2 linked regions of the Homo sapiens genome follow. The protein of the gene in region 1 interacts with the protein of each later gene in a biochemical or structural test. Each region holds a gene or a part of one and is shown in the gene's direction. Other genes may lie near its edges.

Region 1 (4,999 bases):
AGACTTAATGATTGATTGGCACTGTAAGGTGAGGCAGAGGCCTTTTATAAGTGGATGCTGAGGGTGGCAGAGAAAGGGTTGAGGATGATTCCTGAGGCCTGGCACGACAGATGGGAGTGCTGTAAATTGAGATAGGATATATAGGGAGAAAAGCAGGTTGAGAAAAGCAGGTAGAGAAAGGATAATGACTTCAGTTTTAGATACATTTGAGTGTCAGATACCTTTGAGAAATTAATGTGCTTAGTCTAGAAAACATTTGGATATACATATCTGAGACCTATAGCAGAGAGGTTAGGATGGGCCCAGGGCACAGATTTAGAAATCAGTACATATGTGGCAGTTTAAACTATGAGAAGATGGGATCCCTTGTGTATAGAGTCTGAAGAGAGAAAAAGGAGATGGCCAATGACAGGACCCTCCTAAGTATCTGAGTGGAAGAGGCAGGGGTAGAAAGTGAGGACACCACAAAGGATCTCAAAGAATCTCCATGTTGAAGAATTTGGGGCTGGGCGTGGTGGCTTACGCCTGTAATGCCAACACTTTGGGAGGCCGAGGCGGGTGGATCACTTGAGGTGAGGAGTTCGAGACCAGCCTGGCCAGCATGGTGAAACCCTGTCTCTACTGAAAATACAAAAATTAGCCAGGCATGGTGGTGTGCGCCTGTAATCCCAGCTACTCGGGAGGCTGAGGCAGGAGAATTGCTGGAACCTGGGAGGCAGAGCTGCAGTGAGCCGAGATTGCGTCACTGCACTCCTGCCTAGGTGACAGAGCAAGAAACTCCCTCAAAAAAAAAAAAAAGTCTGGGCCAGTTGCTGTGATGGGCATAATGGAAGAGGCCGCTAAGGACAATTTATAAGATTATGGTCACATTGAGGACTATGACAAGGTACATGATCATTTATTATACTTTTGTTTCTTGGCAGTAGTGGCCATCTGGGTTTGGGGCATGGCAGGTACATTATAGGATTCAGGGTGAGGTTTTGTGATGAATTGGATATGGAGGAGATTATTTGTAAGTGATACATGTGATTGAAGTTCCCAAACTTTAATGTGTATGTGGGAATCAGACCTACAAATTTTGATTCTGTAGGTCTAGTATGGGATCAAAAATTCTGCATGTTTAATGTAAACTCTCAGGTGATGCTGATGCTGGCTGTTCATGGACCACATTTTGAATAGCAATGGTCTAGACTGCATATGGGAATTATATTATGTCAGTTTCCATGCTGCTGATAAAGATATACTGGACAAGATATACTGGGCAAGACTGGGCAATTTACAAAAGAAAGAGGTTTACAGTTCCACATGGCTGGGGAGGCCTCACAGTCATGGCGGAAGGCAAGGAGGAGCACGTCACATCTTACATGGATGGCAGCGGGCAAAGCAAGAGCTTGTGGAGGGAAACTCCCCCTTAAGAAACCATCAGCTCTCATGAGGCTTATTCACTATCAAGAATAAGGATGGGAAAGACCTGCTCCCATGATTCAGTTGCGTCCCAACGGGTACCCTCCCATGACATGTGGGAATTGTGGGAGCTACAACTCAAGATGAGATTTGGGTAGGGACACAGCCAAACCATATCAGGAATGAAGCCAAAAGTCTTCATAGGTGAGGAGAATATGAGCATTGGAGATCCTGTTAGGTTAAAGAGTACAGAATAGGTGAGATGAGAGTTGAATAAATAGAAGACTTGTGGACTAAGACTAAAAATAAGATTTATGTCCCTTCAGCTCAGGAGTTTGAGACCAGCCCAGGCAACATGCTGAAACCCCATCTCTACAAAAAATTAATTTAGCAGGTCATGGTGGTGTGCACCTGTAGTCCCAGCTATTCCAGAGGCTGAGGCGGGAGGATCACTTGAGCCCAGGAGGCAGAGGTTGCATTGAGCTGAGATCATGCCACTGCACTCCAGCCTGGGTGACGGAGTGAGACCCTGTCTCAAAAAAAATTTTATGAAGTTGAACAATTCTGAGTGATGACAAGCCCAGACTCTAGTCCTGGGTGTGGTTGACTAAAATGGAATGGCATTTAAAGTCCTGTGAGAATCATAGATGGACGGAGAAGTACTAAGTTCTTCAGTGAATATGGAGGCACAGATTGGGAAGCTGAGTATAGGAGACAGTACTACTGAAGGGCCGTGATGCCTGTTACGGACTTTTACATGAGAACATAAATAGTTGTCTGAAAAGTGGCTCCTGGCCCAGAGAATGCCTGTTCCTGTTGCCAGCCCTATGGCATATAGAGTCCTGAAAGAATAAGCAGCGTGCACTCTCTCGTGGGGAAAGTGAACACTTGAGAGGTTGAATGTGCTTCTCACCAACTCCCTTGGGGACATTTAAAGATGTAAGGGGTAATTTTTGGCACAACCTAAAATACTGTTCTCTTCCTGTTCAGGGCTTACCTTTTTTTAAACAGGGTATTCAGAGTTGTTAATAGCTAGGGTTGTTAAGAATTATCCTCAGGCTCCTAAAGAAACTGGCAAGTTGAATTCAGTTATTTGGTATCTGAGCCAGGTAACTGCATCAAGTGGCCTGTGGCTTACAGCTTTTCTACCAGGGGAACAATGGTGAATTTATAATAAAAACAGAAGTGTCTCAGGCTGAGAAGAGGTATGGAGAAAAGAGTAGACTCATGAATGATTTCTGCACTCTCAAAGTAATGGTTAAAGACCCTTTGCATAGTGTAAACTTGTCTTGCCCATGACATCTGTGTAAATGGAACTAGAACTAACTTTTGGATTCTACTCATTTTTAAAGAATGTTGCAGAAGAAAATACAAGGGTACTCTATTCCTTATATGGAGTTGTTGAACACAGTGGTACTATGAGGTCGGGGCATTACACTGCCTATGCCAAGGCAAGAACCGCAAATAGTCATCTCTCTAATCTTGTTCTTCACGGTGATATTCCACAAGGTAAGATGTCTTGGAAAATTCAGGCACTCAGCAGATTACGGCAAAACCAAAAAGTAATCAACTTGAATCTTTCCATTTATGTTTGATTTTTCATTTTCTCATGACAGATTTTGAAATGGAATCAAAAGGGCAGTGGTTTCACATCAGCGACACACATGTGCAAGCTGTGCCTACAACTAAAGTACTAAACTCACAAGCGTACCTCCTATTTTATGAGAGAATACTGTAATAATATCAAAAGCACTTTTTCTGGAAACACATTTATGGCTTTTATAATGGCTGAAATAACGATAAAAAAAGACTAATTAAAATCATGTTCACTTAACATTAAATACATGCCAGAAGAAATCATGTTTATTTAAATATTGAAGGGAAAAATACCTAAAAATGTACAAAGGTTTTATATTGTCATAGTGGTTTTTATTCCTGCTTTGTTTCTGGAAAGGAAATCCTGAATTACTTAAGTACTTTGTGTTTAATATATCTGGGTGATGGATCACAACACATCAATAAACTGACTTACCCTAAAATCTTGTTTTATTACTGGGAAGATTTTAACTTCTATTGACTTATCCTACTAGGTAACACTTTAAAAAATATTTCATCAGACTGGCTAATGAAGCTTCATTACAAGTGTGTTAATTTTTTTTTTTTTTTTTTTTTTTTTTTTTTGAGACGGAGTCTTGCTCTGTCGCCCAGGCTGGAGTGCAGTGGTGCGATCTCAGCTTACTGCAAGCTCTGCCTCCTAGGTTCACGCCATTCTCCTGTCTCAGCCTCCCGAGCAGCTGGGACTACAGGCGCCCGCCACCACGCCCAGCTAATTATTTGTATTTTTAGTAGAGACAGGGTTTCACCGTGTTAGCCAGGATGGTCTCGATCTCCTGACCTCGTGATCCACCTGCCTTGGCCTCCCAAAGTGCTGGGATTACAGGCTTGAGCCACCGCGCTGGGCCATACAAGTGTGTTAATTTTATAAGCATCTATATTGACAGCAGAATATAAATGGGAGCAATGTTTCTTTATAAGCCTTCTGATGCCATAGTGTGCATAAGCTGGGGTATACAAGGCCTTACTCTGTATTTGCTCTGTGCCAGTGGTCAACTGATTTTGGACAGATGTAAGACAAACCAGTCTCACTCCTATGAGTATAATTGGGTACCAAACCCCTTAATACCAGCATACCAGAGAAAGCCTGTGAACTGTCCCAAGTCAGCCACTGTTTGAGTTACATGCAACACAAAGAGCTTAGGGACACCAAGCGTCTCTGAACTTCTTGAAAGGTTCTCTGAGGACAACTTCGACATACGATGAACATTTCTAACTTGCTGTGGCAGTAATGAGAGTTGTATCATTCCTAACAAACACCTGTTGAGTTTATGTAATACCCAGTCAGTCATACTGCTTCTAAAATCTCTTGGAAAGAATACTAAAAACAGGCTGGTGCGGTGGCTTATGCTTGTAATCCCAGGACTCTGGGAGGTCAAGGCAGTAGGAAACGTTGAGCCCAGGAGTTTGAGACCAGCCTGGGTAACATAGTGAGACCCTATCTCTACAAAAAACTTAAAAATTAGCCAAATGTGGTAGTGTTTGCCTGTGTCCCCAGCTTTTCAGGAGGCGGAGGTGGGTGGATTGCCTGAGCCCAACAGCAGAGGTTGCAGTGAGCTGAGATTTTACCACTGCCTGTGCGACAGAGCAACACCCTGTCTCAAGAAATACATACACACACAATTTCAAACAGTATTAAGGACCTTACATAACCAACACATATAGTAGCACATGTCCTATAAAATTCAGTATGATTATTTATAATAATTTATTTATAATGTTCTTGGCTTTTTCAACACTCCTTACTGATTTTAACAAAATAGAATCTGCTTTATGAAAACTGACTTAATTTTGTATGTCAGTTTATCTATTTTCTAAGCATTTTTTTTGTACTTTGCTAAGTCGAGTGTCTTCAACAAATTATTAATTGCTATTGAAACAAGTCACCTTGAGTCAGGAATTCCAGAGCTGTGACAAAAACACTGGAAATCTAGTCCAGGTGTTGGCAGCACTTTCCTGTAGAGGGCCAGATAGTAAATAT
Region 2 (3,438 bases), on another chromosome or scaffold:
CAGAAGTATTGCTGGGGTCAGCTCGTTACTCAACTCCAGTTGACATTTGGAGTATAGGCACCATATTTGCTGAACTAGCAACTAAGAAACCACTTTTCCATGGGGATTCAGAAATTGATCAACTCTTCAGGATTTTCAGGTAGCTATTAAAAACTGAGATAATAAAGGTAACATATATGTAACAATGAGATTACATTTATGCTTTAAGAAATTTTTAATTTCCTGTTTTTTAGAGCTTTGGGCACTCCCAATAATGAAGTGTGGCCAGAAGTGGAATCTTTACAGGACTATAAGAATACATTTCCCAAATGGAAACCAGGAAGCCTAGCATCCCATGTCAAAAACTTGGATGAAAATGGCTTGGATTTGCTCTCGGTAAGGAGTGCCCTTGATACTGACTTTCAAATTATTGATGATTCTGAATATATTCAGTTCTTTGTTTTGCCTAGAAAATAGGAAGAACACTAACATTTTTGAGCTAGGTGTCTGTTATGTACATTGTATTATACTAGCTTCATTTTAGATATCAGGAGGCACTAGTGGCTTTGAGAGGAGGATTTAGCATTAGTTTTTGTTTTTTATCTGACAGGTAGCTATGGATATTCTGAGGGAGAAGCCAGGATTAATACACATTTTTTTTTTTAAGTTGCTGAATTGTAGTGGCTCTCCTTTCTAGCATTTTTGTCACTATTGAGCCCTCTTAGTTTATGCTAGACGTGTTTTTCTTATTGGTTGATATTTTAAATTATTAAAGCCATCTTCTGAATAAGCTTTATTCGCACTTTGTACCTAGTTTCTCCATCAGAAGGATCTATTGCTATACCATTGTATACATTTTCTCATTGGTCTTCGGGTTACTTTCAGAGTGTAAAGACTCCTTATGCCACAAAATTAAGCTTAGATTTCCCCCAAATCAAATACTATAAATCAGATTCCTTAGTCTAGCCACAATTGACATATCTTGGAGTGGATAAATCTTTGTTGCTGGCATTGTTCTGTGCATCATAACTTGTTTAGTGGCATGTCATCACTGTCTTCTACTCTCTAGATGCCATTAGTATACTCTTCACAGTTAGGACAACCAAAAGTGTCTCCAGATATTGCCAAATGTCTCCTGATGGGCAAAGTCTATCCCAGTTGCGAACCATTATTGTAAATTAAACTTGGTTTCAAATTTGAGCTTTATTCCTTAGCTCTGGGAACTTGGGCAAGTTACTTCCCTTCGAGCCTCAATGTCCTCATTTGTAAAATGACATTAATACCTACTTTTAGCTGTGGGAATTGAGTACCATGATTTATACAAAGCAGTTTGTATGGTGCTGGTTACATGAGAGTTCAGATGGTAACTAGTTAGTAAAAAATCTCTAGTGTGCTTGTTGATTTTATTTTATTTTAGTATTTCTTAAAGATCAAATTTAACATCAATCCTAAACTTTATTTAGCTTTTTCTGGCGCGTAAACTAACATACTAAGTTGTGTGACTATAATTCATTTAGTGACTCATTTTTAGCTATTTTTATAACACATTGTGCTATGGGGGGTTTTGGAACTTGCTGGAAGCTACATCAGAAACTGCCATAGTTAATTGCCATTTCAAGAATGTTGTAAATAACTCAGGTGGCCGTTTAATTCTCAATGTAAATATAATTAACTAGACGTCTTTCCTATATTTGTGTCTCAGTTTTAAAGCTATTTCTGGATGCTTGAGTCTTACCGTAATTGATAACAAAAAGAGGTTATTGAGAATATCTATGATTTACAGAGTAAGTTATTCTAGACCTCAAGAGTGAAATGTAGGGGAGGAGACATTTGTGTGTTAAACTAATGGAAATGCTCATTTAATAGATATTCACTGAAAGTATTAGTTTTGGTTTATTGCTAGAAAAGTTGAGGTTTTATGGAGATTTTTGTAAAAAATGGTTTATTTCCTAAATAAATATCTCTTTTTCTTTTTTCTCCCAGAAAATGTTAATCTATGATCCAGCCAAACGAATTTCTGGCAAAATGGCACTGAATCATCCATATTTTAATGATTTGGACAATCAGATTAAGAAGATGTAGCTTTCTGACAAAAAGTTTCCATATGTTATATCAACAGATAGTTGTGTTTTTATTGTTAACTCTTGTCTATTTTTGTCTTATATATATTTCTTTGTTATCAAACTTCAGCTGTACTTCGTCTTCTAATTTCAAAAATATAACTTAAAAATGTAAATATTCTATATGAATTTAAATATAATTCTGTAAATGTGTGTAGGTCTCACTGTAACAACTATTTGTTACTATAATAAAACTATAATATTGATGTCAGGAATCAGGAAAAAATTTGAGTTGGCTTAAATCATCTCAGTCCTTATGGCAGTTTTATTTTCCTGTAGTTGGAACTACTAAAATTTAGGAAAATGCTAAGTTCAAGTTTCGTAATGCTTTGAAGTATTTTTATGCTCTGAATGTTTAAATGTTCTCATCAGTTTCTTGCCATGTTGTTAACTATACAACCTGGCTAAAGATGAATATTTTTCTACTGGTATTTTAATTTTTGACCTAAATGTTTAAGCATTCGGAATGAGAAAACTATACAGATTTGAGAAATGATGCTAAATTTATAGGAGTTTTCAGTAACTTAAAAAGCTAACATGAGAGCATGCCAAAATTTGCTAAGTCTTACAAAGATCAAGGGCTGTCCGCAACAGGGAAGAACAGTTTTGAAAATTTATGAACTATCTTATTTTTAGGTAGGTTTTGAAAGCTTTTTGTCTAAGTGAATTCTTATGCCTTGGTCAGAGTAATAACTGAAGGAGTTGCTTATCTTGGCTTTCGAGTCTGAGTTTAAAACTACACATTTTGACATAGTGTTTATTAGCAGCCATCTAAAAAGGCTCTAATGTATATTTAACTAAAATTACTAGCTTTGGGAATTAAACTGTTTAACAAATAATGCTGCTCATTGTGATTCTTACCTATAAGCAGCCTAATTTGAATTATTTGCTGCAATCAAGAGAAGTGTACAATAGTTTTATTACTTTTTTAGTGTACTTCTATCCTTTTTCCAACTATATCTCCTCTATTTTTCCTCCTCGTTAACAGGCTAGAATGTGCATTCCTGGGTTACCGATTTTTACACTCAATTGGATGTGTAATGAGGGATCTATCTAATCCATCTTGTCTTGGAAATTTTGCACTCTAGAAGAAAGTGTGTCACTTTCTTCAGCAGCGAGACCTTTTAAGATTGGTGGTTTGGTTGTCCTGTTCTGTGGTCTTTGGTGGAAGCCAGTTTGTTGTAAGAGAATGTAGAGCTTATTAATGTAAGTCATTTGGGGTTATATTGTGGAGGGTTGTTTAGGATTGCATGGCAGGAATTGGGTAAATGAAAGGTAACACTAAAGATTGGAGATGGTATAATGGCATATCTACAGGTCTGTGTTTCCTTATCTGCGA

What was found. The genes of interacting proteins can lie anywhere in the genome.
Region 2: of the proteins of USP16 (region 1) and CDK1, one has a biochemical effect on the other in vitro, tested with the Homo sapiens proteins (3 studies listed by BioGRID).

The regions. Positions count from the first base shown.
Region 1 is NC_000021.9:29,051,046-29,056,044, forward strand, and holds the end of USP16 (ubiquitin carboxyl-terminal hydrolase 16), read left to right. Parts: intron 1-2,756; coding exon 2,757-2,913; intron 2,914-3,020; coding exon 3,021-3,142; 3' UTR 3,143-3,443; downstream 3,444-4,999. UniProt on the Homo sapiens protein: Specifically deubiquitinates 'Lys-120' of histone H2A (H2AK119Ub), a specific tag for epigenetic transcriptional repression, thereby acting as a coactivator.
Region 2 is NC_000010.11:60,791,915-60,795,352, forward strand, and holds the end of CDK1 (cyclin-dependent kinase 1), read left to right. Parts: coding exon 1-139; intron 140-233; coding exon 234-375; intron 376-1,962; coding exon 1,963-2,061; 3' UTR 2,062-2,938; downstream 2,939-3,438. UniProt on the Homo sapiens protein: Plays a key role in the control of the eukaryotic cell cycle by modulating the centrosome cycle as well as mitotic onset; promotes G2-M transition via association with multiple interphase cyclins.